Linked DNA regions of Homo sapiens: region 1 is linked to region 2. The links come from fine-mapping of genetic effects on gene expression. A gene starts in region 2. The other region holds a variant in brackets. All regions are shown on one strand. Distances are between the middles of the regions. Region 1 overlaps SH3RF1 (SH3 domain containing ring finger 1). Region 2 holds the start of HPF1 (histone PARylation factor 1).

What was found. PIP is the estimated chance that this variant, and not a neighbour inherited with it, causes the effect.
Region 1: its variant is the best candidate, but not a certain one, in a credible set for the expression of HPF1 in whole blood (INTERVAL, PIP 0.80).

The regions. Positions count from the first base shown.
Region 1 is chr4:169,171,503-169,175,897 of GRCh38, forward strand. The region is part of intron 2 of SH3RF1 (SH3 domain containing ring finger 1); the gene reads right to left. Among named protein-coding and RNA genes, the nearest start is that of SH3RF1, 97 kb to the right of the region's middle. The variant T/TTATATATA (reference allele first, on the strand shown) is at 2,497.
Region 2 is chr4:169,756,368-169,760,762 of GRCh38, forward strand. It overlaps HPF1 (histone PARylation factor 1), which reads right to left and starts at 1,577. Exons shown (of 8, transcript NM_017867.3): 1 at 1,463-1,577. The coding sequence starts at 1,510. It overlaps LOC107986240 (a long non-coding RNA gene), which reads left to right and starts at 1,696. Exons shown (of 3, transcript XR_001741529.2): 1 at 1,696-1,857. RefSeq lists an enhancer at 1,425-1,494.

The sequences.
Region 1 (4,395 bases), 580 kb before region 2:
AGGTGGAATGTAAGTAGAATATGACTTATTGATAGTAATATAGGAGAAAAGTAGACAGCAGAAAAAAGGCTTTACATTTCTAAGGGAGCATGATTTAGAAGAACTTGGCCAGCTAAACTGTTAAATATGTGTCTGAACAAAATACTGATTATTTTTGAACACCCCAAATCTCAGAAACTTTATTACCTGTGCCTTTCAAGTGAAAACTATAACAATTATGCAAGGAAGTATCTCCCAGCCTACAATATTCCCCTCACAAAAAACCACAGAAGACTCCTAGAGAAATGAAATGTGATACAAGAAATGTGGATGGCTCAATATGATCTAGAAGAGATGAAGAAAATGAAATTTTAAAAAGATCCACTGGATCTAGAGGTGGGGCAGGGTCTGGTGAAAGGTTATATCTGCTTCTTCTCCATCCGCACTGCAGTGAATCATGTTTATATAATCATAATACTGCAAATGCTATTTTTATGGGACTTGGGGAATTAATTACAGCTACAGAATAGAATGTTATAAACTCTGACAATATCAAAATAACAATACACTGAACTAAAACCAAGAGTTAGGCTTAAAGGAAGGTGGGAGGTAGAAGTACTCTAAATTTTCCACTCTGAAATTGATACTGTATGAGCCTAAGAAAGCAAGAGCTGAAAACATATTATTGAAGGCTTGGGTCACCCCACCAGGTAAAAAGCCACGACCAGCTCAGTTGCTTGCTGAAGGCAAAGGGAATACAGAATGAGTAGTAGAAGAAGGCAGTTATCAATACTGGCTAAAACCATGTGTCCAGTTACAGAAAGGAGGACTGTACTATCATGAGTAATTCCTCCTTATTTTAAGAATATGCCCGTACATGGATATACCTGTACTCAGAAAATATCTTCGTTTTACTTCCTTTCTTCTTCCTTTATCATGTAACATGAGATTTATTGACTTCATATCAGCATTTAAATGTCATTAACTTTATATAATAGCATTTAGGTTAAGGATTAGGGCATTTTCAGTTGTACAAAATATAGTTGTATTATGTTAGGTGTAATTATGACCTTATTGTTTTTATTTGGAGATTAAGTATGATTTAAGGAGATGTGTATGGGGCTAAGTTGACAAGGGGTCAACTATTATGGTTCACATTAGGTGTCAACTTGATCAGATTGAGGGATGCCTAGATGGTTGCTAAGGTATTGTTGGCTGGCAGGGGTGAGGGTGTTGCCAGAGGAGACTGACATTTGACTGACATTTGGGCTGGGAGAGAAAGACCCACCAATTGGCTGCCAGCGCGGCTAGAACAAAGCAAGCGAAGAAGGTGGGATGTAATGGTAACCAGTAGAACTAAAGAATAGAAAACAGTAATAGCACTTACCCCTGGAAAGCAGGACTAGGGTAGGAGAGAAGAGAGAGGGACACTCTTGCTCTCTATTTTAGAATCTTCTTTGAGGTTATGTATTTTCTATCATGAACAGATATTACTCTAAAACTAAAATGTGTAAGAAAAAGTGTGTGAAATTCTAATACACTTGCTATAAATAGAGTATCTTGTTTACTAAATAATTAAGATATACAAAGAGGAGTAATAATAAAAAAGATAATCCACTGTATCCACAAACTGACTTGAGAAATAAAGCATTATAAATGCAATTGAAGCCTTCTGTATTTTTCTTCGCCAACCACATAGTAGATCAACTTTTAAAAGAAAAGAAGCAAATCTAGATGGACCCTTACTATTGTCCCTGCTCATCCACCTAATCCCACTCCTACTTGCTCCTGACCATTCCTGATTAAGATATTCAGTTGCACCAAATAATTGACTCAGGCACCTTAACAAAATATTAATATGACATTAGTAAAACTCCCACCGTGCCCCCTTGTTATTCAGACTGTATGTCTTATAATAAATACAAGCTTGCTGTGCTAAGTTTTTTCTGGGATTAAAAAAAAAAAAGTAGCAAAAGAACACAGTAAGTCCAGTGATTGAGGAAATGAAAAACAAGATATAAATTGTCACTACAATCATGCTCCCTGCTTCTGCAAGACCTTGTGATTCAATTAGTATGATTTCACCTTAAGTGTTTGTGTCTGAGGAGCTGGTGATCCTGAGGCGCTGTAGATCCTGGGGTCTGGAGGGTTACACATGTTAGCTCTGGAGAAAACAATAAAAGCCTAAATACCTTCCCTTAATTTGAGAGGGGTTAGCTTACTGAGCTTGTGAAATATGTGGAAACCACTATCTAACCATTTACAAGCTACCTTTTTTTTTAATAAGCTACTTTTAAAGAGGAGGGGTAGCAAGTTGGCCATGTCTTAGAACCTTGGTTATGAAAACTTCATTAATCAGAGACAAGATTTTTAAATGTTTAAAAGAATATGGCTATTACCCTCTTTCTCACCAAGTCTTTTAGAAAAATAAGATCACCCTACCCACACACCACCACTACCAAATACCTGACTTTAAGGATACGGCTAATGCTAGTTCTTCAATTGTAATTTCCTGAG[T/TTATATATA]TATATATATATATATATGGTGACTGAATTCATACCTGAAGCAGCCCCATCCTGATAACACAATAAAAACCAATGCTTTTCTTGAGACAGGGTCTCACTCTGTCACCCAGGCTAGAGTGCAGTGGCGCAATCATGGCTCACTGCAGCCCCGACCTCCGGGCTGAAGTGATCCTCTCTCTTCAGCCCCTCGAAAGCTGTGACTACAGGCACGTACCAGCATACCTGGCTAATTTTTGTATGTTTTGTAGGGGTAGGGTCTCTCTATGTTGCCTAGGCTGCTCTCAAATTCTTAAGACTCAAGCAATCCTCCCGCCTCAGCCTCCCAAAGTGCAGGGATTATTGGCGTGAGCCATCATGCCAGGCCAAAACTGGTGCTTTTCAAGCTTTAATGAGGGCACGAATCACCTGGACTTCCTGTTAAATGCATACATAGTCTGATTCAGTACCTCTGGGTGGGGCAAGAGAGACTGCATTTCTAACAGTCTCAGGTGATACTGATGCTGCCCAGGGAGCCACACTTTGAGTAAAAGGGGAATCCAGTATCAATCTCCTTCCCAATCTCCTTTGGGTGTTTTTCTTTCTCAATTGCTCCATCTTCTGACATTTGCTCTTTTCTAACTAAATTTACTCCCAAGATGATCTCATCTATTTCCTTCTTTTAAAACCATTTACACAAGCCATTCTCAACCCTGACTGCATATTAGGATCAACTAGGGAGTCATTTTTTCTTCTTCTTTTAAAGTTTTCTAAAGCCCCACCCCAAACCAATTAAATAAAAATCTCTGGGGCTGGGTCAGAAGCATACGGATTTTGAAAAGCTCCTTAGTGACTCTCATATGAAGCGCTAAGAACTGTGGATCTACACAACGATGTCTCCCAGATCTAACCTCAGCTATAACCTCTCCCCTGCGCACCAAGGGCCTACTTCACATCTCCTGTTGAATATCTAATAGGCATCCACAAATCAACGTGTCCAAAACAGACCTCTTGGTTTCCACCTACCCCCATGAAAATCTGATCCTCTACCAGTTTTCCCCAATGTTGGTAAATAGCCCACTGTTCACCTCGTTGCTTGGGCCAAAAGACTGGGCTTCACCATGATGCCTCCGTTCCCATTCTTTCACATTGCACATCCACTTAATGCATCAGCAAGTCTGCCAGCTTTGACTTCAGAACAACCCCCAGTCAGTCCACTTCTGACAATTTCTACTGCTACCAGCCCAAGCCAGATCAACACCATCTGTATTGCCACTATTAACACCCTAGCACCTATTATCCACAGTCTTGCCTGTTAACCTCAGAACGGCTTTCCCTCCCACTTGAAATACAAACTCCTTCCTGTGGCTCCCAAGGCTTTCTATCATCTGGTCCCGGCTAACCTCTCTGGCTCCCTCTCCAATTCTTCTCCCATCCCTACATCCTACTCCTGCTACACTGGCCTTGTTGTTGCTTCTTGACCACTCCAGGCTCTTCCCTGCCTCAGGATCCTTCTCTTACTTTTCCTTCTGCTTAGAATATTCTTTACAGGCTTATTCCTAATCATCATTCAGGTCTCTGCTCTAATGTCATCTCAGAAGGCTTCCCTGATTATCCCACAATAGCCTCAACCCAACCAGCACCCAACACAACTTCCTCACCCTGAACTTTCTACCCTGCTCGTTTTCTTCATGACATTTATCATGACTAGGCACCGACCCACCCAAAACCACTAGACCATAAGCTCTAAAAAAACTGTCTTGTTCAACAGAGAATCACAGGCCTATATCCATACCTGAGGCAAGTTGTACACACTTAATGCATTTTGCACTATTTGTATCTTCCCTCTCCCCCCATCCCCCAATTCATAAATTGAAACCCTAACCAGTGCGAGAGTATTTGGAGGTGGGACCTTTGGAAGGT
Region 2 (4,395 bases):
ATAGAACAGTAGGAACATATGAAGTCCTGAGCTATCCTATCTTCTGTTTTCATAACTGTCTTTGTTCAGACGTTCAAAGACTGGCTCCAACTTAAGATGTTAGAAAAGGCTTAATCTGCCTTGCTGAAAGGCAGTTTTGCATAATAGTTAGGTTGCCTGGGTTGACTCCTGACTCTACTGATTTCCAACCTTAGGCAAGTTACTTAACCTCTCTGTGCTTTGTTTTCTCATCTGCAAAAAGGGCATACAGTGCCTATATCGGGGTTGTTACAAGGAATGTTATTATATGTAAAAATACACAGAACGGTCCTAGCACATAATATACAAATGCTGGCCATTACGGTTATAGTCTCTACAGACTCATCTTCATTTCTGTTATTGTATTTCTAGTTAAGCACATCACTCCACCAAAGCAGTTCTTCACTGCACCTTCAAAAAGAGAATTTTTTCAGCTGTGCCTTTACTCACACACTAGTTCAGCATCTCCATAGCCCTAACAACTAGGATTTAGAACAGCTGTCCCCTTCAGAGGCTACACTTCTTCTTTACCCTGGTCTTCCTAGAATGCATGACCCAATATGAAGGATGCCTATACCGATGGCCCTTTAACAGTTAGTTAAGCCCTCTAAGAATGTCTCACCCTGTCCGATTTATGACACTACCAGAGTAACTTTTCTAAAACTTTAGTTATCACAATGGCACTTCTTTCCTGATTCCCCTTATTGCTACTGTAGTGGTTACAGAACTTCCGAAATCGTAGTAAAGTATGAGAATGCACACACTCTCTCCTCCTCCCCTCTCAGTAGTGCTTTTATGATCAGGTCCCTCTTATTTTCCCATTTCCCTGGCTCCAGCCAAGCCGAACGCTCCGCTACGCCCAAACATCTCCTACAGTTTTATGTCTCAGAATCTTACTTCTCTGCCTTCAAAACCAATTTTCAAAGAGTTGTCTTAAAAGTCTTCTTTAACACCCCCTGGGACTTGTTAAATCCTCCTTCAGTGTTTCCATAGCACTTTCTACACACCAGCGTTATAATCCCAAACAAAAAAGTCACAGTAGAATGCATATTTGCTTGTGCCCCTCCTCCCCAGGCCGAGGGCTCAACAAGCAGCAGGAGCAAGCAGGTTGACCCCCAAATCCGCAGCGCCCCACAGAATGTCAGGTATGTAATCGGTTCCCAATCAATCTGGCTGGGCGAATGAACCATTGGTTGGCTTAATCCGTTTCCCCAGGAAATGCTCCAAGAGGAGCTGGGCAGAAGATGCAGAGGAGCTACTTTCCTGGTCCAACCCCCTGCAGAGCGCGAAACAGCGGCCCTGGGCAGGATCCCCGCAGCAAACCGCAGCCCCTGGACACACAGCAAGCTTAATAGTCACTGGATGAATGAAAAGCGCTGCCTCCTGGTGCCCTGGCTGTCACCCAAAGCGCCCCGCGTAGCCCGCACAGCCTTTCCGGCAGTACCTGCGGCCCCTCTCCGCCGGGCCTGCGCTTCCCGCCACCGCCGACCATTCTGCAGCTGCAGCGCCAGCAGAATTCCCCGATCCGCGGCCGCTTCCGAGCGCCGCCAACCGCTTCCGGGTTCAAAAGCCTCCAAGCCGAATTTCAGCGCCGCCCGGGCTCGCCAATTTAGGGGAAAGGCTCCGCCCATTCCCCGCCCCCTGAGACCTGGCACCGGACGCGTTGAGGCCCCGCCCACTCCCGTGCTGGGCGCGTGCAAGGAGCGTCTTCTGTCAGCGTAGTCTGCATCTAGGCTTTCTGGAGCATCTTCCAGGGTCGCTCCAGAGACCCCCCAGACTACTGAATCTGAATCCTTAGAGTGGTCCAACCTTCCTCTTCAGGTGTCTACTAGAGGCAAGGTTGGATGTATGCGGCTGTTCTCAATACAGCCCCTTCCTTGTTTTTTCTTCATTTATATTTACTTAAAATATTAATCCTTTTCTCCTTCTCCTCCATCCCTCTCCCTACCCTACTGTACGGTTATTGGCTTACACTAATTCATTCCCGATTGTCTCCAAGAAGGAAATAAATGTCTGTCGGTCTCTGTCTCTGTACCGTCGTCTTCTTGGTACAATTTGGACTGTTTTTCCTCTACACCGCTGATATGCAAAGTGTAGTCCCTGAACCAGCGGCCTCAGCATCCTGAGGGAATTTGTTAAAACGCCAAATCTCAGGCCTTACCCAGACTTACTGAATCAATATCTGCATCGCAACAAGATCCCCTGGTAATTCCTATGCACATAAAATTTGGAAGGCACAACTCTCAACTGATGTCCTTGGACCTCCTTCACATCCATCCTGGGAAGGTCTTATTCCTCATTCCTGAGATGAGTTCTCTATTTCCTCAATCTGGGTGTTCCTTTTTCTTGATTATATACCCTCATGTTGTGGAACATATCCGCCAATAGTTCCTTGAGAGAGGTTGCTGCCAGGTCTTTTTTCCCACAGAGTGTGCATGTCTGGAAATGTTTTTATTCTGGCTGAGCACAGTTCTAGGTTGAAAATAACTTTCACTCGGAATATTGGAGGGCTTGCTCCGCAATATTTTAGCTTCCAGAATTGTTAAGAAACTATGTCGTTATATTTCCTTCTCCTTCACAGGTCACTAAATTTCTTGATATGTAACCTGCTTTCCTTTCTGTTTTGTTTTGTCTCAAGAAGCTTTAGGATCTTTTCTCTGTTTCCAGTGTTTTTTGTTTTGTTTTGTTTTGTTTTGTTTTTTTTGAGACGGAGTCTCGCTCTGTTGCCCAGGCTGGAGTGCAGTGGTGCCACCTCAGCTCACTGCAAGCTCCACCTCCCGGGTTCACACCGTTCTCCTACCTCAGCCTCCGGAGTAGCTGGGACTACAGGCGCCCGCCACCACGCCCAGCTAATTTTTTTTTTTTTTGTATTTTTAGTAGAGACGGGGTTTCACCGTGTTAGCCAGGATGGTCTCGATCTCCTGACCTCGTGATCCGCCCTCCTCGGCCTCCCAAAGTGCTGGGATGACGGGTGTGAGCCACCGCGTCCGGCCTATTCCCAGTGTTCTAAAACACTATTGAGTGTCTTGGTTATGGGTCTTTTCTCATTCCTATCGACCAGTTTTTCAATCCTGAAACACATGTTCTTCAGTTATGGGAATTCTTCTGGTATTATTTATTTGATCATTTCTTCCCCCCCACCCCCCATCGTATCTCTTCTTTTTTGAAATTTGTTATTTAGATCGTGGACCTTCTTGGCTGATGTTTTTTCTTACCTGTCTGTCCTATTTTCTATGTCTTCATATTTTTATTCTACTTTCTCTGTGACTTTCTCAACTTAATTGGACAATTACTTAATTTCTTTATTATACTTAATAAAGATTAATTACTTAATTTCTGTATTATACCTTTATTTCTCAGTGCTCTTTTTATTCTCTGTTCTTTTATAGCATTACATTATTTTTCATGAATATAGCTCCTTTTATCTCTGAAGATGTCAATTATAGCGTTTTTAAAAATGCTTTCTACGTAACTCTGCATTGACTTTGATTCTTTTGAGTCTTTTTTGGTTGTTTGTTTGTTTACATTTGGTTCCTGTTGTTTCTGCTAGAGGCATTCTTCATCTTGTGTGGTGATCCTTGCTGTCAATTTATATGTAAAAATGAGGCTCTAAAAAGGTGCTTTGGGGACATAGGCAAGGCTTGTTTACTGCTGGACAAGGTGTAAGATGATGGGGAAAGAACCAGCTGTTTATTTTCTTCTAGAGAGTAATCTTCTAATTACTCACTTTGAGAATATACAGACTTCTTGGAGCCCAATGCAGGAAGGAGGCTGGGAGTCTTAATAATTTCATTATATGCACTGTATTAGTCGGGGTTCTCCAGAGAAACAGAACAAATAGGTATCTATTTATCTATATCTATACCTACATCTGTATCTAGCTATCTATTAGCTCACGTGATTATAGGGGTTGAGAAGCTGCATAATCTGCTGTCTGCAAGCTGAAGATCCAGAAAGCCCATATTGTAGTTTGAAGCCCTGATAACTGGGGAGCCAATGGTGTAGATTCCAGTTCGAGTTTGAAGTCTTGCAAACCAGGATCACCAAGGGCAGGAAAAGATCAAAGATTCAGTTCAAGAATCTAGCAGAGAGAGAGTGAATCCTCCCTTCCTCTACCTTTTTGTTTTATTCAGACCCGAATGGATAAGATGATGCCCACCCACATTGGTGAGGATAATCTCTTTTACTTAGTGCCCCCGCAGACACTCAGTAATACCGATTAACCAGGTATCTGGGCATCCTGTGGTCCAGTCAAGTTGACACATAAAATTAACTCTCCACCGCGTGTGGCGGCTCATGCCTGTTTCCCAGCACTTTGGGAGGCCAGGGAGGGTGGATCACTTGAGGTCAGGAGTTCGAGACCAGCCTGGCCAATGT